Linked DNA regions of Homo sapiens: region 1 is linked to region 2. Evidence: fine-mapped expression QTL. A gene starts in region 2. The other region holds a variant in brackets. All regions are shown on one strand. Distances are between the middles of the regions. Region 1 holds the start of LOC102723335 (a long non-coding RNA gene). Region 2 holds the start of LINS1 (lines homolog 1).

Evidence for each region. PIP is the estimated chance that this variant, and not a neighbour inherited with it, causes the effect.
Region 1: its variant is fine-mapped to the expression of LINS1 in whole blood (TOPMed, PIP above 0.99).

What each region holds. Positions count from the first base shown.
Region 1 is chr15:100,556,028-100,567,169 of GRCh38, forward strand. It overlaps LOC102723335 (a long non-coding RNA gene), which reads left to right and starts at 2,639. Exons shown (of 3, transcript NR_135693.1): 1 at 2,639-2,795; 2 at 3,286-3,418; 3 at 3,608-3,772. LINS1 (lines homolog 1) reads right to left here. Exons shown (of 7, transcript NM_001040616.3): 7 at 10,897-11,142. It also overlaps the pseudogene PRKXP1 and the pseudogene RNU6-181P. The variant C/G (reference allele first, on the strand shown) is at 6,342.
Region 2 is chr15:100,596,777-100,607,918 of GRCh38, forward strand. It overlaps LINS1 (lines homolog 1), which reads right to left and starts at 5,408. Exons shown (of 7, transcript NM_001040616.3): 1 at 5,345-5,408. It overlaps ASB7 (ankyrin repeat and SOCS box containing 7), which reads left to right and starts at 5,813. Exons shown (of 6, transcript NM_198243.3): 1 at 5,813-6,270; 2 at 6,439-6,537. RefSeq lists an enhancer at 5,326-5,665 and silencers at 5,836-6,095, 6,546-6,595.

The sequences.
Region 1 (11,142 bases), 41 kb before region 2:
GATGAGGGACGGGCGGATGACTTCGTTCCAGACGCAGATGAGGGACGGGCGGATGATTCCTTCCGGACGCAGATGAGGGACGGGCGGATGACTTCCTTCCAGACGCAGATGAGGAACGGGCGGATGACTTCCTTCAGGACGCAGATGAGGGACGGGTGGATGACTTCCTTCCGGACGCAGATGAGGGACGGGTGGATGACTTCCTTCTGGACGCAGATGAGGGACGGGTGGATGATTCCTTCTGGACGCAGATGAGGAACGGGCGGATGACCTCCTTCCGGACGCAGATGAGGGAGGGGTGGATGATTCCTTCCGGACGCAGATGAGGGACGGGTGGATGATTCCTTCAGGACGCAGATGAGGGACGGGCGGATGACTTCCTTCCAGACGCAGATGAGGAACGGGCGGATGACTTCCTTCAGGACGCAGATGAGGGACGGGCGGATGACTTCCTTCCGGACGCAGATGAGGGACGGGTGGATGACTTCCTTCGGACGCAGATGAGGAACGGGCGGATGATTTCCTTCCAGACGCAGATGAGGAACGGGCGGATGACCTCCTTCAGGACGCAGATGAGGAACGGGCGGATGACCTCCTTCCGGACGCAGATGAGGGACGGGCGGATGACTTCCTTCGGACGCAGATGAGGGACGGGTGGATGATTCCTTCCAGACGCAGATGAGGAACGGGCGGATGACCTCCTTCCGGACGCAGATGAGGGACGGGTGGATGACTTCCTTCCGGACGCAGATGAGGGACGGGCGGATGACTTCCTTCCAGACGCAGATGAGGGACGGGTGGATGACTTCCTTCCAGACGCAGATGAGGGACGGGCGGATGATTCCTTCAGGACGCAGATGAGGGACGGGTGGATGACTTCCTTCCAGACGCAGATGAGGAACGGGCGGATGACTTCCTTCGGGACGCCGATGAGGAACGGGTGGATGATTCCTTCAGGACGCAGATGAGGAACGGGCGAATGACTTCCTTCGGGACGCCGATGAGGAACGGGTGGATGATTCCTTCAGGACGCAGATGAGGAACGGGCGGATGACTTCCTTCGGGACGCCGATGAGGAACGGGTGGATGATTCCTTCAGGACGCAGATGAGGGACGGGTGGATGACTTCCTTCCAGACGCAGATGAGGGACGGGCGGATGACTTCCTTCCAGACGCAGATGAGGGACGGGCGGATGACTTCCTTCCAGACGCAGATGAGGGACGGGCGGATGATTCCTTCAGGACGCAGATGAGGGACGGGCGGATGACTTCCTTCCAGACGCAGATGAGGGACGGGCGGATGACTTCCTTCCAGACGCAGATGAGGGACGGGCGGATGATTCCTTCAGGACGCAGATGAGGGACGGGTGGATGACTTCCTTCCAGACGCAGATGAGGAACGGGTGGATGACTTCCTTCGGGACGCCGATGAGGAACGGGTGGATGATTCCTTCAGGACGCAGATGAGGAACGGGCGGATGACTTCCTTCGGGACGCCGATGAGGAACGGGTGGATGATTCCTTCAGGACGCAGATGAGGGACGGGTGGATGACTTCCTTCCAGACGCAGATGAGGGACGGGCGGATGACTTCCTTCCAGACGCAGATGAGGGACGGGCGGATGACTTCCTTCCAGACGCAGATGAGGGACGGGCGGATGATTCCTTCAGGACGCAGATGAGGGACGGGCGGATGACTTCCTTCCAGACGCAGATGAGGGACGGGCGGATGACTTCCTTCCAGACGCAGATGAGGGACGGGCGGATGATTCCTTCCGGACGCAGATGAGGGACGGGCGGATGACTTCCTTCGGGACGCCGATGAGGAACGGGTGGATGATTCCTTCAGGACGCAGATGAGGAACGGGCGGATGACTTCCTTCCAGACGCAGATGAGGAAAGGGCGGATGACTTCCTTCAGGACGCAGATGAGGGACGGGCGGATGACTTCCTTCCAGACGCAGATGAGGGACGGGCGGATGATTCCTTCCGGACGCAGATGAGGGACGGGCGGATGACTTCCTTCCGGACGCAGATGAGCGACGGGTGGATGACTTCCTTCCAGACGCAGATGAGGGATGGGCGGATGACTTCCTTCCGGACGCAGATGAGGAACGAGCAGATGACTTCCTTCCGGACGCAGATGAGGAACGAGCAGATGACTTCCTTCCAGACGCAGATGAGGGACGGGCGGATGACTTCCTTCCGGACGCAGATGAGGGACGGGCGGATGACTTCCTTCCGGACGCAGATGAGGGACGGGCTGATGACTTCCTTCCGGACACAGATGAGGGACGGGCGGATGACTTCCTTCCGGACGCAGATGAGGGACGGGCGGATGATTCCTTCGGGACGCAGATGAGGGACGGGCGGATGACTTCCTTCCGGACGCAGATGAGGGACGGGCGGATGACTTCCTTCCGGACGCAGATGAGCGACGGGCGGATGACTTCCTTCCGGACGCAGATGAGGGACGGGCGGATGACTTCCTTCCGGACGCAGATGAGGGACGGGCGGATGACTTCCTTCCGGACGCAGATGAGCGACGGGCGGATGACTTCCTTCCGGACGCAGATGAGGAAGGGATTCCTTCCGGACGCAGATGAGGGACGGGCGGATGATTCCTTCCGGACACACCTCTCAATGTGCACGTGCTGCTCCTGCCAGGCGGATGACATCAGGAATGCTCATCAACTTGAGGGCGAAGAAATGCTTGGCGGTCTTCTCCTTCACCGGGTGCACCCGCCCGAACGTCCCAGTGCCCACGGTGGCCAGTGTGTCGAAGTCCTGCAGGCGGTGGGCAGGCGGCTCCGGCGACCAGGCCTTGGGGCTGGGGCAGAATGCGGGTGCCCAGCCGGGGGTCTCCTCCCACACCTCTCGGGGGTCGCTCTCCGCCACGGCCGCCTGGGCCAGTCGGGGCTCCTCCATGCGGACACACTCAGGTCCGGGGCACCGGGCCAGGCCGGAGCGCTCGGGTAGCCGGGCTTCCCGGGACGCAGCCTCGGAGGGCGGCGTGGTGGTGGCATCAACGGAGGCTCCCCATGCGTGCCCTCGCCTCCCAGCGCGCGGCCCGGCGCAGCTGACAACGCCCCCGGGTGGGAGCAGCTGCCGGCCTCGTCGGGGGGTGGGCACTGAGTGCCGCGCAGCAGCGGGGAAGATGGGGCCCGTGGCCCAGGCTGTGGGGGCAGGGAGGGGGCCCTGCGCATTCCCAGTCTCGCGCCCGCCGCCTCCTCCAGCTTGGTAGCCGCCAGCGTGCTCTACGGTGTTTTTGTTTGTTTTTTACCAGCTGATTCACAACTCAAGTAGCACAGTGAAGGTGGACAATTTGGACTGCCTAAGCATCCCAGCATCGTCTGTTCTACATATCACTATTCCAAATGGCATGCTGCTGTGTTTGTGAATCCAGCCTCCCACATTGGGTATGTCACCATTGGCCTATAACAACTGGAATGACACATCTTCACTAGAGGCAGGCCTTGGCCATCCTCCACAGCAGACTATTGAGTAACAAAATAAGCAGTACTATTTATTTACTTCTTACTATGCTGTTTAAAAAAAAAGCCTCTGATGAAATCCTGGTGGCTTCTTCTCTGTTCTTACCAATCCAGGAAGTGTAGAGAGCTGTTGAGCCCTGTTTCCAAATCCCCAGGTGAAGCTGCGCTGACATGCCTTCTGTCCATACAGCCCTTTCCAAGACTCAGCTATTTGTGATCACCCCCAAATGTTACCCTGATTCTATTACCAATTTGTAATAAAACTCACTTGTATGGTGGAAAGGCTGTTGCCAATTAATTTTATTTTCGTCACCCATTTTCCCTTCCATGTAATCGTCAAATTGTTTATTGTACATATTAAAAATGACACACAATCAAGAGGGCATATGCTATATTCAAGCAAAGAATGCTATGTGAGCCACGCGTGGTGGCTCACGCCTGTAATGCCAGCACTTTGGGAGGCCAAGGGGGGTGGATCAATTGAGGTCAGGGGTTTGAGACCAGCCTGGCCAACACAGTGAAACCCCATTTCTACTAAAAATACAAAAAAAAAAAATACCCGGACATGGTGGTGCACGCTTGTAATCCTAGCTACTTGGGAGGCTGAGGCAGGAGAATTACTTGAACCCAGGAGGTGGAGATTGCAGTGAGCCAAGATTGCACCACTGCACTCCAGTCTGGGCAACAGAATGAGATGCCATCTCAAAAAAAAAAAAAATGCTATGCGATACAAAAATGATGTACTTGTCAATAGTCCAGTGAGTCAGGGGAACCCTTTCTCTTTATTGTGGAGAAAAATAGCACAATCAGAAAAAAAATTAAAAGATAATTTTCAGGAAAACTGACAGTTAAAAATCCAATTCTGTTTTACACAAGTAGTCTTTTGTGTTTTGCAGAAAAACAAATATCTGTTGATTTGGAGATGGACAATATATGGTCCTTAGCAAATAAAAGAAGTTTAGCTGTGGGGAAACCTGCACTTCCTCATAATTTATTGAATAGCTTAAAAAGATGTCATCAGCAATTATAAGTGTGCTTCTGGGGTGCTTACTTCACAGGCCTCAAAGGGAGAAATGAGTCTGACAGGAGGCTTGAGGCACTTAAAAAACACACAGACATTCTGATTGCCACCCCTAGAAAGTGCCTTTTTTTTTTTTTAAAGTTACAAAATATGAAATGCTTCATAAATTTACATGTCATCCTTGAGCAGGGGCCATGCTAATCTTCTCTGTATCATTCCAATTTTAGTATATGTGCTGCCAATATAAGCATAGAAAGTGCTTTTCAGATGGCCAGGCACAGTGGCTCATGCCTGTAATCCCAGCACTTTGGGAGGCCTAGGTGGGCAGATCACCTGAGGTCAGGAGTTAGAGACCAGCCTGACCAACACTAAGAAACCCTGTCTCTACTAAAAATACAAAATTAGCTGGGTGTGGTGGTGCATGCCTGTAATACCAGCTGCTTGGTAGGCAGAGGCAGGAGAATTGCTTGAACCCAGGAGGTGGAGGTTGTGGTGAGCCAGGATAGTGCCATTGCACATTTTTCAGGTAAAACCATGCTTCAACTCTACTGCCTTCAATGATTGGGTAGGCTCTACCAAACAGCAAACACCTGAGCCATTCTCACTGGAAAGAAAATCACAGGCAGATCACATTCCATATCTCAATGCTTCTAAATATCAGAGAACTGCTGGGACAGTGGTGTGTGCCTGTAATCTCAGCTACTTGGGAGGCTGAGGCAGGAGGATCCTTTGAGCCCAGGAGTTTGAGACTAGTCTGGGCAACATAGTGAGATTCCATTGCAAAAAAACAGTATGTGAAGTAAATTTAAAATAAATATCAGAGAAGTGTACTTTGAAAACAAAGCAAAAATCCTGAAAAGGAAAAACACAAGCAATCCAGGGTGTACACAAGCATGTATTGTACCCAATGCAGTAAGTAACTGGACTACAGTTCATTCCAACTACTTGGTAAGGTTCATTGTGAACTGCAAACTTAGAAAGGGATCACTGTTTGCTTTTCCTTTATCTTAAAAAAATATATAGGCCAGCTTTGCAATTAAGAGGGGATACATGGTGTTTACTGTAAAGGCTTTGATGTGAGTTCAGTTCTACCCTCTTTAAAATAACCAGAAAAACTCAGAAATGGTTTGCTAGTCTGATCTATGATCCTACTGTTAGAAAAGGCATTTTGTCAACCATAATTTTTGAATGTGCATTTTGATAAAGCAAGACAATTTTTATACTGTCATAAGTGACAATCAAGACCAATTAAAGTTTAATATTTAGGTCAAGTGTCCAAACATCTGGGCAGTCCATGTCTGCCAAGTGCAGCCCTAGTGGGTTGTGTTAAGGAAGAGGTAGGAGGTACAGCAGCAAGTCCAGCTGGTGCCCAGGGAGATATTTTGGATTTCTGGAACATTGCCTTTGGTGATTGTGTTAAAACTATTTCTGACTTGAATGGTATTGTTTTCAGCCTGTCATTTCAAAGGTGCAACCCAAAATGCCAGTATTATTTGTGTGCAGAGAATACAAATAAATTGAAAACCACCATCCTTGGTTTCTACCTCTTCCCCTCCTGTGCACACTTGAGTCCACCTAAAATTTCTCTCTTAAACATCATCAGCTACTTCCTAAGGGTCAAACCATCTGGTGGTTTCTCGGATCTCATCCCACTGTTGCTCTCAGAGATACTAAACCCCACATAAATTTTCCTTCTCAAAGCTCTATAAAACCTTTCTTAGTTTCCTCATAGAATTTTCTGTTCTCCTGCCTCAAATTTCCCTCACTTTCCTTATTCTATCCAGTACTCCCCCGACCCACCCTCACCTTTTCTCTCTCCACTCTCAG[C/G]GCAATCACACTTTCTTCTACGATTTTCATAATACTTGTACACAAATGACTCATATTTGGCTCTGTCCTTCTAATTTCCAACAGAGCATTTCTAACTCTCTGCTGGATGCCACGCTGTGCTGATAACAGTGTCAGAAGTCACTCAGGTGAGAACTGAACTTTTCTTCCTCCTAAGGCTTCCTACTTTCTTATTTCAGTAAACAGAGCAGCATCTCAGCATGCCAGTGAAACGATGGCTCTTTATTTCAGGTTGATCCTGTTCCTCCTTTTTAAATTCTTTTTTCCAGTTATACTTGCACACATTATTTAAAGACTAAGTCTTTCAGTTCTAAAAACTTTCCTTGAATTTCTTTTATACTTTCTCTTTTCCAGTCCTTTTTTCTCTTTCTGATACTTCTATTATTCAATTATTGGACCTTGGTGACCAGTTCTCACATTATATCATCTCTCTCTCTCCTATTTTCTAATTTCTTTGTCCTATTGCTGTAAAATCTAGATTTCCTCAACTTATTTTTACTACATTTCTACTTTTTCATTTTTGCTATCACATTATTAATTTATAAGAGGTATTTTTTTCCCCACTGAATATTTTTTTCTTTTTTGAGACAGGGTCTTGCTCTGCTCTGTCACCCAGGCTGGAGTGCAGTGGTGCGATTATACGATTGTAGTTCACTGTAACCTCAAACTCCTGGGTTCAAACCATCCTTCTGCCAAGCCTCTCAAGTAGCTGGGACTACTATACTCAACTATTTAGGTTTTTTTTTTGGAGAGACAGAGTCTCATGATGTCGCCCAGGCTGGTCTTAAACTCCTGGGCTCAAGTGATTCTCTTGCCTTGGCCTCCCAAAGTGCTGGAATTACAGGTGTAAGCCACCATGCCCAGCCCCTCGCTGAATATTTTTTATGTAGTATCCTTTATAATTTCTTTGAGGGTATTGATAAATTAACTTCCTCTTTGTTTAATCTGTTTCGTGTTTGTTTTGATCTCTGCCTTTTGGGTTAGAGGCTTTCCCCTAATTCCTGATGATCCTTGGCTATTCACTCACATTATATGTAAGAGTGAGCCACTTAAATGCCAGTTAGCTCTATGTACATGGTGATATTTGCCACTATGGGCTTCATAGTAGGGTGATTTGGCTGGGTAATTCATTTGGGGAACCCCAGTATCAGTGTCTTTAGATCTTTTTTCTTGGGTTTGTTAAATTCCCCAGAAAAGTCTCTTCTAGCCTCCTACTTAGAGTTAGAAGTGTTTTGGCAATAGGGTTGGGGAGAAGGCCAGGGAGGATGGTGGTTATATTTAGTATGTAAATGTTTAATTAATCCTGTTTTCAGTATGTTATTCCTATCTCCAGCTATGTCTGGTGTTCCCCAGTCCAAAGACCTGTTGTTTCACACTCTCCCGGAATTAACCTCTAATCTGCTAGGTGGTGGAGGGAGCAATGGCTAACTACATGGAATGGGGCAGAGGATCTAGAAGTAATTGTTTCCTGAATTGCTTTTCCACCCACCACCCCATGGTACAGCATGGTACTCAAGACTACAAGCTCCTGAGCCTTCAGAAGAATCCAGCTCATAAGTCAGGTTTTTCAGTTTTCCCCATTCCAGATAGGAATGTAATGTTCCTGGGTCGACTAAGTTAGTTTGAACCCGCCACTGCAAAATTGTAACTGGGACAGTGGAAGAGATCGGACTTAACCAACTCCATCTTGCTTCTTACCTCCAAGCTGTCCTTGTTCATCCCTGGGCATAGGCTGAACTAATTTTGAGAGGAATTTATAGTTTAAAACAAAGATAAGAGGCAAATCCCCTTCTTGCCTGGGGACGAGACTGCCTTTGTAGGATTAACAAATTAGTCACAAGATTAGAAATTATGGTTTAGGAGTCATGCAGCTGGAGGCTGCAAGATTCTGACCCTCCCTAAACTGCTCCTAAGTCAGGAACTATTTTGTAGACCCTGCACTTGATGGATCAGCTGGCACCACCCAGATCCATAAACTGGCTCATCTGATCTTGGTTCTTGTGGCCCCCACCCAGGAACTGACTCAGCACAAGAAGACAGCTTTAATTCCCTGATCTCTTCTCTTTCCCAACCAATCAGCACTCTTGACTCACATCCCCTTCCCACCAAATTATCCTTAAAAACTCTGATCCCTGAATGCTCGGAAAGACCGATTTGAGTTATAATAAAACTCCAGTCTCCCCTACAGCCGGCTCTGTGTGAATTACTCTTTCTTTATTGAAATTCCTGTCTTGATAAATCGGCTTCGTTTAGGGAGTGGGAAAGATGAACCCACTGGGCGGTTACGAGTTTTCAACCTACCTACCTTTGAGCTTCCAAAATTGTTTTCTCCTTTTCCATTTTGTCCGCATGTGTCTTGTTGCTTGTGATTTGGCCTCTTTCTTGTTGTTAGTGGGTGTCTGAGGGCAGAAAAGCTGATGTGAGCATTCAGCCAGGCCTGGATCCCATTCCCATTGCCCTTGCCTTCAGTGGGATTTCTGCAATAAACTCTTCCACTCTATTGTGGCAATAAACTCTAGCCACTATATTGCCACTAAAGTCACTTTCTTCAAATACAAAACCAGTCATTTACTCAAAAACCTCATCAGCTGTCCACTGTGTATAGAAAAGTCAATACTCCATAGCACATCACCCTAGGTCTTGGATGACCTGACTCCAGTATAAGTTTATAGTGTGACTTATACCACCTACCACACATATCCAAATCTGCAACAATTTTAGTTTTAATAGTGTACATCCCTCATCTTCTATCTTGAAGGCAGGAATAAATTATGTAGGGAGTCTGAGAAGAGGTTGGAACCCAACTACCTGAATCCATTACTTCAGCTCTGCCACTTTACTGGCTGGGTGATCTTGGGCAAGCTACTTAATCTCCATGTCTGCAAAACAAGAATAATAATAATAATAATAATAATAATAATGATAATAGGACCTACTTTCTAACATTGTTACAAGGATTAGAAGAGCACTTAACAGTGGCTAGCAAGTAGGAAGTGCAAGGTAAGGATAATGATTATAATTCTCTGCACATCTGTCTCCTCCAGTAGATTATCAAGTTCCTGGAGAAGGATCACTTCTCATTTATTCAACATTTGTGCTGTGCCTATGATGTAACGATGTAAAAAGAGCTTAGCAAATGGAAAGACTGTCGACTTATGGTTCAAATATAATGTGACAAATGATACAACACAGGAAAGAGCAAAGCACAGAGAATAGAGCATGCAGAATTGAATGGTGAAGAACGGATGGGGGAAGGCTTCACAATCTAACACTGAAGATGGGGCTTGATGAATGAATATGTAAGAGCCAAGAGTTGTGCAAGGAACAGTGGATGGGGAGAAAACCACAGACAGCCTGGAGAAGCAGGTTGGGGCCAGTTGCACAAGGCCCTGCATAACCTGTTTACCATACAATTTATTGTTTGACCAGTGTTTGCTAATCTCACTGTTCTAGCATATCAGGCGTGTCAGAGAATTATGAGGAGTCAAAGTATTTTGTTACTAATAATAGCTGAAATGTGGGTACTTAACTTTTTTTTGAGATGGAGTTTTGCTCTTGTTGCCCAAGCTGGAGTGCAATGGAGCGATCTCAGCTCACTGCAGCCTCTGCCTCTGGGGTTCAAGCGATTCTCCTGCCTCAGCCTCCCATGTAGCTGGGATTATGGGTGTGTGCCACCATACCTGGCTGGTTTTTTGTATTTTTAGTAGAGACGGGGTTTCACTATGTTGGCCAGGCTGGTCTCGAACTCCTGACCTCAGGTGATCCACCCGCCTCAGCCTCCCAAAGTGCTGGGATTACAGGCGTGAGCCACCATGCCTGGCCAGGTACTTGACATTTTAAAAATAAATCAGGACACACTCCCAAATGATGTTGAACAAAAGAATACATAATCTATGACTCCATTTATAAAAGAAAGAGAAAACCAGGCAAAGATTGTCTCTGTTGTCTCAGTTCATGACACAGTTACCTTCAGGGGTGGACAGTGACAGGGAGAGGATTCAAGAGGGACTTCTGGGTGCCTCATGCTATTTCTTGATCTGGGGACTGGCTCCACAGGTGTGCTGTTTCTGAAAATTCAACAAGCTGTATACTTATAGTGCACTTTTCTGTATCTCTTCTGCTTTAAAATAAGTCAGGTGCACAGCACCATGTGCTCACTTGTATTTCCATATTCTTTTACTGGAAGGGGTGAGGTTACAGACTCCTCTTGTGTTGTACTCTGGGAATTCACTGTGCAGACATGCATCAATAGTTTTGTGTTCCTTTAAGAAGTAACTCTGGGAATAGCGCTTAGATGCTCAGAAAGGCCAAGGATAGTGATCACACCAGCCAAGGGTCACCTTTAGCAAGAGCAGGGCTTAGTGAGTGTGTGATGAATTGACTTACACTCGAGTTAGTTATAAATGTAGAGATTCTGAAACACCAACTTCGCATATCTGTAAGATTGCTTTTCCCTCATTTTACATGTAATGAGGGGCTGACAGTTCCTTGCTAACCTTATAGAGAAACACAAGTCAAAACCACATCTGCATAAGCATGAGTTATAATGCATTCAACATTTATGTACCCTTAGGAACAAGAGTCGATTTTTTTTTCCCAGTTATTTCCATCAAAAAACAGCCATGTGTCACATGACAGGGACATGTTCTGAGAAATGAGCTGTAAGGCAATTTTGTTGTCATGTCATGTATGTCACAGAGTATACTCAACAAACCTAGATGGCATAGCCTACTACACACCTAGGCTATATGGTATAGCCCATTGCTCCTAGGCTACAAACCTG
Region 2 (11,142 bases):
TAACAGAGGAAGCCTGCTGCAATTGGTTAAATCCAAGATGGCCAAAAACTTGACTGAATGCATACTCTTGGCTGCATTATGCCCCATTACCATAAAACTTCCCTGGGGAAACCGCCCACTCCCTGCCACGTACCTGAAGCTATGGCAGTTCCAGATTAACCACATTTAGTCAAGAAAAGGGTGGCGCCCTGATTCTGGGAACTGCCCACCCATTTCCTGGAAACCCTCTCCTTTCATCATAGAATATTTGTGCCTTCATCATGCCTGTCTGCGTAGCGAGCCCTGACCACATTACACGCCTCTTTTGAGCACATCCAGGCTCCTCTTTTGAGTGTGCACTTGCTTTCACTCTGCAACAAACCTTCTACATTTTCACTGTGGTCTCCCTTTCAAATTCTTTTGTGCAGAGAAGCGAAGAACCTGACCTGGCCTACTGGCAACAGTATCTTTCTCAAGTAGCTCTATTATGTGACCACTCCAAAGGCAAATCTTTTTTTTTTTTTTTAAACATAGCACAAATTAATGCTGGACATTAGAATCATAACGTGTTCATACTAGAAAAAATCTCAAGAGATAATTTAGAGATAATTCTCAAACCGTAGCATCAGAATTACCTGGAAGGCTTATTAGAACACAAATGGCTGGGCCCACTTTGGAGATTCTGATTTAGTGGGTCTGGGAGGGCCCAAGAATTGAACCAGGGACTACATTTTGAGAACCACTGCACAATCTACTTGATTTATTGATGAGGAATCTCAGCTCCTTAGGTTTTTATATGCTAATGCTAAGCATTTTTAAAATAAATGGAAATTATCCAGTGTATCAATATGAATACTTTTCTATACTTAGTTGCTAAATTATAACTGTATGTTTTAAGTGGTACTTCAGAATGAAATATTTCACTGAAAGGTTTTCCTTAGTCTTCCCCTTTTCCAGTCTATGCCTTGTCCCTTTTCCATCTGCCCCCACAAACCCGCCACCAGTGGCAGGGTAGCGTTGAGGAACTGTCTATAGATGTGATACTGTCTAGATTTTACTGAACTCCTAAATTCTGTACACAGACAAGATCTGATTTTTCAATTGATAAAACGAGATTATCTACCTACCTCAGCCAAGTAGCATACTCAAAGATTTGCAAAAATTAAATGGCTTATATGTGAAAACACCTGTATAACTCAAGTAGGAAGATGTCAATATGTCTTTATTTATTAACCTTGAAAGGTTCCTTCCAGCCTCTGGGCCTTGATACAATGCTTCTCCTTCCACCCACTTTCCCTTTTGTTTTAGGCTTAAATATGACTTTCTTTGGCAGGGGTAGGTCCTCCGGTGATACTGTCTTCCAGCTCTGGTGCCCTGTCTTACAGAATGTGTCACAATTATACTTTAACGATTTGTGCAATGATTTTTATGATTTAGAGTTGTCTGCTTGGTTCTTCCCTAGCTCCTAGCACAGCATTTGATACACAGTAGGTACTTATATTTGTGGAATACATTCCTGGCTGAAGATTAATTTAGTAGTGTATATGTAACAATCCTAAAATCAGTCCCAAAGTATATTTTAGTACCGTTTTGATCTCAAAAAACTTTAAAAACACCATGTAATATTTTAAGTTGTGAATTTTAAATTATAATAAAAATGTAGTATCAAAGAATTATAAACAGTAGTATCCATAGCAGGGATTAAGTTCTGAGCTCATTCAGTCTTTACCGTATGACACATCTGACAACGTACTTGACAGAAGCAACACACACTGAAGCACCATCTTAAAATGGCTGTGGTAGAATACCATAGAAGACCAAAATCCCTTAAATTACCAGGGCAAGAACTATAAGGAACTCAAAAGCCTCCAGTTAGCTTCCTTTCTTTCGGCGTTCTTTTTGCTGTGATGACCAAGGTCTGAAATACAATTTCTCTACCCAGCCCCATCGCCTTTTCTGCCAGGTACAGCTGAACTAAGTTGGGCTAACAAGGCAAATGATGGGCTCCAAACTGTGCTGCATCTGTCTTTATGGTGGCCCTCTTTATTACACCAAGATCCCCAGACACAACCTGCTGGCCCAGAACACTGCCTGCTGCCAACTAGAGCATAACCTGCTCATTCTCTCCACCACCAAGTGCTTTATGGGCCAGGACACAGCCTCCTGGGCAGTGGTCCTTGACCTTGGAATCTGACCTTGACACTGACATCACTGGAACATTAGGAAAAACCCATGAGCCTTGGACTCCCTAGAGACCAGCTAAATCAGAATTGCTGCAGTGGTGCTGGGGCATTTTTCCAATGACAAAGTCTCTTTCTACTCAAGAAATAAACTCAATTCTGATTGAGTCAGGGTTTCATGAATCAAGCTTCATGAATACTTATCCCAAATTATTTCACTTATATGTTGTAAGATGTTCCCATTTTTGTGAGTTTTATATTATTAACTAAGTTAATGGGAAATGAAGTGTATCTGTTAAAACCTAATCAATATTAACTTGTTATAAATATTCCGCAATCTAAACTGCTTTTACATCATTGAAAAGTTATAAAAATTAGCAAATCTGATAGCACCAATTCAATAAAGCAATTTAAAATTACCTAGTAGCACATTCTGTGAAACTTTGACAATATGATGTTACTTGGCTATGATATAATCATGTACTTCAATCATTTGAAAATGGTTGTTTAACTCAAAGGCAGGATTTTTAATGAAAAACAAATGGCCAGAAATACAAAGAACTAGGAATTAGGAGACAACTCTGTTTCTAGGCTCTTCACCAACAAGTTCTTAGGCCCCCATCTCTCTACTTAACTATCATTTAGCAAATACACCATATGAATTGCATGGGTGCCGAGTCTGCTATAAGAATGAATATGTTCTCCACAACAATTTACATATTTATTCATTTCTCTCTCCCTCTTTTTCCTTCTTTTTGGGAGTTCAAAACTTCTTGACTCTATAATTAGTAAATGTTATAAAACTGAACTTGTACATTATATTTGAACTGTTAAAAAGCAAAATTTGAGGCTGGGTGCAGTGGCTCACACCTGTAATCCCAGCACTCTGGGAGGCCGAGGCGGGTGGATCACCTGAGGTCAGAGGTTCGAGACCAGCCTGGCCAACGTGGTAAAACCCCATCTCCACTAAAAATACAAAAATTAGCTGGGTGTGGTGGAGTGTGTCTGTAGTCCCAGGTACTCAGGAGGCTGGGACAGGAGAACTGCTTGAACCTGGGAGGCGGAGGTTGCAGTGAGCCAAGCTCGCACCACTGTACTCCAGCCTGGGCGACAGAGGGAGACTCCATCTCAAAAACAAAAACAAACAAAATTTGAACAAATTTAAAGATGTAAATGGCTTTTATTAGCAATTTATGAATCTGGCAGCATCTCAACTAAAAATTTAGAAACGGTGTTCTGATTAGCTGAGCAGAGGTGGGCTGAAAACGGTTGAAGAAGCAAAAAGAGAATAAAAGACAGATTGGTCATTTCAAAGTTAAACTTTCCTCACAGAGACCAAATGGAGGAGAGACTTCTTTATCATGCTGGCTCAGGTAAATCAGGCCTCCTTGACTCCTTGCTGTGTATCTTCTGGATTTTTTGACAACTGGCCCATTTCTAAGTTGTTTGATTATGTGACACCTAGCACCAGCAACTCCATTCTGATTTGGCCTGGTCTGTTGGGCCTAGTGCAGGGGTTTAATCTAAAACAATGGCTTCCTATACATTTCATTTAACAATACTAATAAAATACCGCTTTTATTTTATTTGTTTACATTGGAGTCCTGCTGTTAAGCAAAAAAAAAAAAAAAAAAAACAGGGAGAAATCATGGTAGAATCGAAAGACCGAAAGCTACTAAAAATTGATAGCATTTAATAGTCCTGAATAAGTTGTTTCTAATTATAATTCAGCTACTAATTTCAAGAAGAAATGGAAATTTAGAAAGTTGAAATTATGAAATATGATTGCTGGGAAGTATAATGGGACAAAAATTAAAAAGCTGAATCTATCTTCACTGCCACTACTGCACTTCTACTCTGGACAACTGCAACCGATCCCTTCCAAAGTGGTTGTATCCAGGCCCACCCTACACCCACTTCCTTCTGAAAAACCAATCCACTTTCCTTAGGATACAGTCCAAACTCCTAAACAAGGCTTACCAAGGCCCTTCAAGATCTGACTCTCGGCGTCTTCTCATCTCTATGCCCCACTCCCCAGTCTCATTACCAGTCATTTTCCTACCACTCTGCTTCAGCTACCCTAGCCTTCTTTCTGGCAGTTCCTGTAAACAGCAAAGCATATTCTAGCATCAGAGGCTTTGCATTTCTAATTCTCTCTGCTGGCAAAATTCTCTCCCTAGATCTTGGCATGGCTGGCTCTTTGTCATTCAGATCCCTGCTCAAATGTCACTTCCTCAGAGACCTTTCCTATCTGTCTTAGTCCGTTTCCTGTTGCTTATAAAATAATTCCTAAAACTCGGTAATTTATAAAGAAAAGTAATTTATTGTCTAGTTTTGGAGGCTGGGAAGTCTAAGACTGACGGACCACGAGACAGCACCGCAAAGTATCACGTGGCCAGGGGGCTGAGCAGGCTCACGAGTTGTCAAGTCTCTCCTTAAAAAGCCACCAGTTCTACCTCCGTGATAACCCATTAATCCATGAATAGATCAATCCACTCGTGAAGACAGAACCCTCACGGTCCAACCACCTCTTAAAGACTCTACCTCTCAGTACTGCCACATTGGGGATTAAATTTCAACATGAGTTTTGAAGGGGACAGATATTCACACCATAGCACTACCTATCTAATACAGCCCATCACGTCCTGGTCAAAATCGATTCCACCATTCTGCTTGATTTTCCTCATATAACCCATCCCTATCTGATAATTTTGTGTTTGTTTCCCCGAAATCACTATCTTGTTCACTGTTGTCTCCCCAGGGACTAGAACAGTGGCCAGTAAACACTTGCTAATGAATAAAGTGCTTAACAAACGTGTCTTGATCAGTCTATCTCGCGTTTTCCCCACGACCCCTCTCCATTCATTCACAGGAACCCGCCAACGTTGCTATCCTTTCAGGAAGGTCCTTGGATCGTCATCGCTATCCCAAAGAGAGTCCGTTCTCCCACTTCAGGCGAGGCATTGCCAGCCTGGAAGCTAACGGGGTCTCAAGGACCGACAGCCGCGCCAAGACCGGGCACTTGCGTCTGACAAGCGCTGAACAGGGGCGGAGAAACAAGGCACCCCTCTACTCGCTTCCTGGAGCCTGCCGCCCTCCCAACCTTAAGCCCTGAACCAGGCTCTCATTTGGCCGCACTCGTGCCTCCCCTGCTGCCAGCACGGCGGCCGGTCCCGGTTACCTGCCTGGGATCTGGCTCAGGCGAACTCTCTTCACACCGCCATTTGAGGGAACACAAATGCCCGCTCTGGGCCACCGTAGTTCACAGAAAGTACAAGCTGGCACCTCCTCCCGCATGCGCAGAGACCGCCTTCGGCGAATAGTGTCTCTTAGCAACGGCTTTGAGTCCCTCCGCCAGGGGCGGAGCCTCGGAAGCCACCACGGGGAAGCTGTAAGGGGAAGTGAGTGAGACCAATCGGAGACGAATCTCTGCCCCGTTCGGCACGCCTCCCTTAACTGTCGCGAATGCAAAGGCAACTTTACGGCAGGCAGAGGGTGGGGGCTGCCGGGGGTAAGGAGGAGAGAAGGAAGCAACCAACCAACCAAGTCGTCCCTACTCCCTCCACCCCCACCCATCCCGGACCTGGTTTACGGCTCCAGGCTCAGGCTCCACTGCGGGCGCTGATTGGTTGTTGAAGGCTTGGTCCCATCCCAGTGACCCCAAAGTGCTGAAGGGAGGGGGCGGGGGTGGCCCAGTGCAAAGTGCATCCCGAAAGCCCCCTGTCCGGAGACCCCACGGCTGGCACTTCGGGCCCCGTATGACCTGGGACCTCGCCGTCCCGAGACCTCCTGGGTCCCTCCGTAGCTGGAAGCCTCCGGCCCGGAGCGCGGCAGCCCCCTGCTCCGAGCCCTGGACCGGGACTGCCCCCCCACCCGAGCCAGGACTTCCTCCCTGCCTCCCTGCACCTCTGCCCCAAGGCTGCCCGGCGGCCGGGATCGCCACCTCCTGCCTTCTCGGCTGTTCGGATGTTCGCCGGGCTGGGGCCGTGAGGCACCGAGGAGGATCAGGAACACCAGGGTCCGGCCCTGCCTGGGGTATTTCTTCAATGGAGAAGTTGGTGAGTGTAGAGGAGGCTGAAAGGAGGAAGAGAAGCAGCAGCTGAGGAGACAGGTAAAGTCCTTTACTTCCCCCGAGGGGAAGAGTGCTGGCTGGGAGGGTAGGAGGGAGGAAAATCTCTGCTTTTTCTTGCCTGCCCTTGCCACTCTCCAGCCCCTTTCCTGAGCTCCCCCCTCCCCACCTCTGAGACACTACACCACTCACTGGTTTCTGTTTTTCTAGGTTTGAGCTGGCTGAAGAAGACGCGAAAGCAGGAAGAGGTCTGCCCACCTATCAGAGAAGCAGAAGGCACAGTGCCTCTGACCAGCATCGTCTGTAAAGGTAATGAGCCAGCCCTCCCCTCCCCCGTTGTTTATTCCTGGCCCCTACCTCATTAAGCAGTGGTTTATTTTCAGGGTGGTTGCCTGGGAATGCAACCTTTCCTACCCCCCCCACCCCCACCCCCAGTTTCCCAGGAAAAACAAAAACATTACCCGTGCCTGATACTTAACATTTTATAACTTCTCTACCCAGGACAGTATTTTCCCACTTTCTTTCTGTACAGTGTGTTTCTGTGTTTTTCATTATCTTTTGGTACACTGTGCCATTTACTCTGCTCTGAGGCTTTGAGACCTTTTTGTAGCTACCCTCCCTTCCTTACTCTCATAGGAATTCCTCAATTCCTTGTTAATTGCTTGTTAATTCTGAATGACTTTCCTTTTTAATTAAACCACAATTTACTGTTTTCCCCCTTACTCTTTCCTATCACCTTTCTTCTACCTGCATCAGAAAAATCTTTTGAGTTATCTAACTGACAACGATTTGGTAGAGAAAGGTAAATTATTGGCCTGAGATTTATGAGTTTCAGAAAATAGTTTGATTTTATTTCCTACTAGAAAGCCAACCTGTGTACCTTAAGAGTGTGAATGGTATGAAGACAACATTATTACCCTGAAGCACTTAGGCATAATTAACTCTTTGGGCTTTCTGTGTGTTTGTGTGTGACAAATGTGGATGGGCTTTGAAACTTATAAAGATACAATGTTTCTTACACCTCAGATTTTCTAGGAGAACTTTTAAAAATTTGCACAATATCTTATTAATCGTTTGACTCAGGAATTTAAAAACAAAGGAACCTTTTGGTGTGTTTACATATCTGGGTCTTAATTTTAGCACTCTATAAAAAAGATTTCTCATTTTAAAACTTTTACGTAGAGTTTGCTGGATTGAAATTTAAGCATCTAATTCATGTGATCACATTTCTGCTGCCATATTTTGTTGCTGCTTCTGAAAATGCTCTGAAAGTAAACTTAGGACATTAGTGTAATTCCTAAAGGGGGGATATAAGCATGGAAATTATACAAGGTTTAATTCCAAAATTAGCCAAATGGATGACTTTTTTAACATCCAGTAGCAAAAGTATAAAGTGACTTGTTAATCTGAGTTATTTTAATATCCCAAATTGTTTAGGGAATTTTTGTTACAAGGAAGTGCTTAAAATAGCAGAAGTTAATATTTTTGATTTCCTATGTTCCACTGGACTTTCTGCCCTCCACAAAAAGAAATTAGTATCTTTACTGATTCTGTTAATTCTTAAGACATAGCTAAAGAGATAAAGACATAGCTTTTAAGGGGATCTGAGGTATGCATATTCTTGAGACATGGAACTGCATGCCAAAAGAAGAGATTCTAGGGAATAGGATTTAGAATCAGTATCTACCAATGACTGTTCCCTGTTGAAAACTTAGGGCAGCTTTTGTATGTATATGTAGGGAATCAGGAGTACTAGACTACATCATTTCAGTAAAAGCTACCCGGAAATCTTTAAAGGCTAATTTTTATTATGTAAGTATGGAAGTTGTCAGGGAGATGGCCTAATGATTACTTCAGAACTTTTAAAAAATGCTAAAATATTTGAAGTATGTTCTAAAGATCAAAATGAAGTACTGTGTTTTGTATTCAAGCCTCTCAGTTAAATATTTTTTCAGCTTTACATGTAACTCTAGGACGCTTTCATTTCTAAAGAGTAGTTTCACCTGAGATGGTAAAGGGAAGGAGTCTGTGGCTAGTCCAGCACATAAGGTAAGAGAGGATAAGTCTTTACTCTGGCTCTCAGCCAGTTCATTCTCATTGCTTAAATCGTATTTCATGGATCATCTCATTTTTTAATAGTTTTTCTAAGATTAGGGAATATGTGTAAATTGTCAACATCTGTCATGTTTCTAATATCAGAATGACTGAGAGTATTTGGTCTAGATTATACCAGGCATTTAGAATATTTAATTTGGGTATTTATTTACCAACATGGCTAGTTAGGTAGCTTACATTTTTTAACCTGGCAGTTAGCTTTGTATTAATTCTATTGCCAATCATGTGGCTTAAAAAAAATCCAATTTATTTCGTCACCAAATATAGATTTATAATCACGTAGGGAGAATAATTGATTTTAATTGAAGATATGCAATGATGCATCTTTAGTATACTGTGGCCAGTACTTACATTCTTTACACATAAAGTGATGTCATTTACAATTAGTTAATACTATGACACATACAGTATCTCTTTAATTTGTTCACGTTTAACTTTGGTGACATAGAGATACACACCATCCCTAAAAAGTCTAAAGCCAGATATGATTTATATGGGCATATCTGTTACCTGACTTTCAGCCTTCCACATCATAATCCCCTGAATGCCCTCCCTACGTAGGATGATTGTCTCCTTTCTTGCAAACTTTCTAGGAATTGACACATGAGGCTACAAAGATGGTGTTGGCAGACCTAGGTTAATAAGATAATATTGACAGGACCTCATCATTATAATACTTGTGATTTAAGCTTTGAGTTGGGTCTGGATAAGTCCAAAATTTCTTCTGTTGCTTCATCCACACTTCATGAAAATTATTGGTTTCTCTGCTGGAATTTATGTGGGTCATGGATAAGTTGTGCATGGTAATAAATCCTTATGTTATATGGAGGCCCAGTAATTTGGAGGAAATACTAATACCTTTATTTGTTTTGGATCATAACCACTATGCTATACTTTGTTGAGTGACACTAAAATAACACTTATACCTTATTTTGGGTTCCAGGCTCCTGATCATATCAGTAGAGCTTGTGAACAGGCATCTCAGCCATGTTCTCCGTTTTGGTACGGCCGTGTAGTGTTTTTCCATCCATCTTCCCTCTTAGATCTTGTGAATGTGAACCATTGAAGGATTGTTTTTTTTTTCTCAGACCCAATGTCGTCGGAGTTGCTGATTGCATTTATTTTCTTACCAGCATGTATTTTTGTTTACTTTGCAAAGAAATGCTTATTTCTTTCTTTGAGTAATAAGCCATTATCTTGTTGCTAAGTTTATGTGACATCAGAAAGCACAGTTCAGTTTGCATCACTTAATCAGAAATGTGTGGACTTTTAATGATAATAATATGCAAAAAGTCATTAATGTCTAATCATTTATGCCAAAGGAGATTTGGGAAATATGGTCAAATTTGGTGAAGGTTTTGTAACTTCGGACAGGTCTTAAGCATATTTTGTTTTATGTTTATTTTATTCTTCACGCTGTTCTATCATATAGACTTAACTATGTGAAGCAAGAAGTTTTGGGTTTAACTAAATGAACTTCACTTGGCATCTATATGGAAATTAGATGGTAATGTACTTGAATTTCTAAATTAGTAGTTTTTAATATGGTCAATAGTATTAAAGCTTGGAAGCCTAGATTCTTTTCTTTTGACCCCAAGTGGAAAAGAAAGTCTTCCTTGTTTGTTTGCTTTTTTTTTCCTTGTGACTGTGAAAGCTAGAATAAAATTTCTGAAGATCATACCCTCAGAGTATCAGTAGCTCCTGAGTCCACAAAAACATAACTAAACATACATAACTTACAAAATTACCTCCTGGCCGGGCGCGGTGGCTCACACCTGTAATCCTAGCACTTTGGGAGGCCGAGGCGGGCGGATCACAAGGTCAAGAGATCGAGATCATCCTGACTAACATGGTGAAACCTCGTCTCTACTAAAAATACATGAATTAGCCGGGTGTGGTGGCACGCTCCTGTAGTCCCAGCTACTTAGGAGGCTGAGGCAGGAGAATCGCTTGAACCCTGAAGGCAGAGGTTGCAGTGAGCCGAGATCGCACCACTGCACTCCAGCCTGGCAATAGAGCGAGCCTCCGTCTCAAAAAAAAAAAAAAGAAAATTACTTCCTTTGCTATATTCCTTTTCTTTTTATAGGTGACTTCCATGAGCTATCAGTTTTTTAATAAACTCCCTGAGGGAAAATAGGCTTTCTTCCATTCTCATCTCTGGACTTCCTCTGTTGTTTTTTAATAGACATATTTACCACTAGATATTGTGTTTGCTTTTCAGCTCCATAGTCTTTTCTTCATTTATACACGTGACTCGACTCTGTCAGGCGCAGCTCTCATAAAGTAACACCAGGAGGAAATTACTTGTTGATGCTTTTGACTATTTGGGGGTCTTTTGTAATAAATTATTTTCTGTCGTAATTCAAAGCAGTGTAGCTGACAGGGATCATGTGTGCATGACGTGTGTGTATGTTTTTTTCTGGTAAACGTTGATGCACTAGTACATGCAGGGAGTACTTTTTTGGTTTAAACCTGTGGTTATTGTTTATAGCACTTGGTATTTTCAGAAAAGAGAAAAATAATCTTAAAATGTCTGGGATTTTAAAAAATTCATTTTAAGTATGCAGAACTCTATTGGAATACCACCTGGAGGTGCTACCTGTGGCCAAACCCTATCACTGTGCCACGTTAAGTGTCAAGCATTCTGTAGACATTTGTTTGTTTGACTGAAGGAGCTCATATGGAATTAGCACAAGTTGCTACCACCTGTGAATCTTTCTTGTTGGGAGAAATAGTTTGGCCACTTCATCTTTTACCACCAGGCCTTTTCTTGATATTGTTAATAAATTAACACCATTT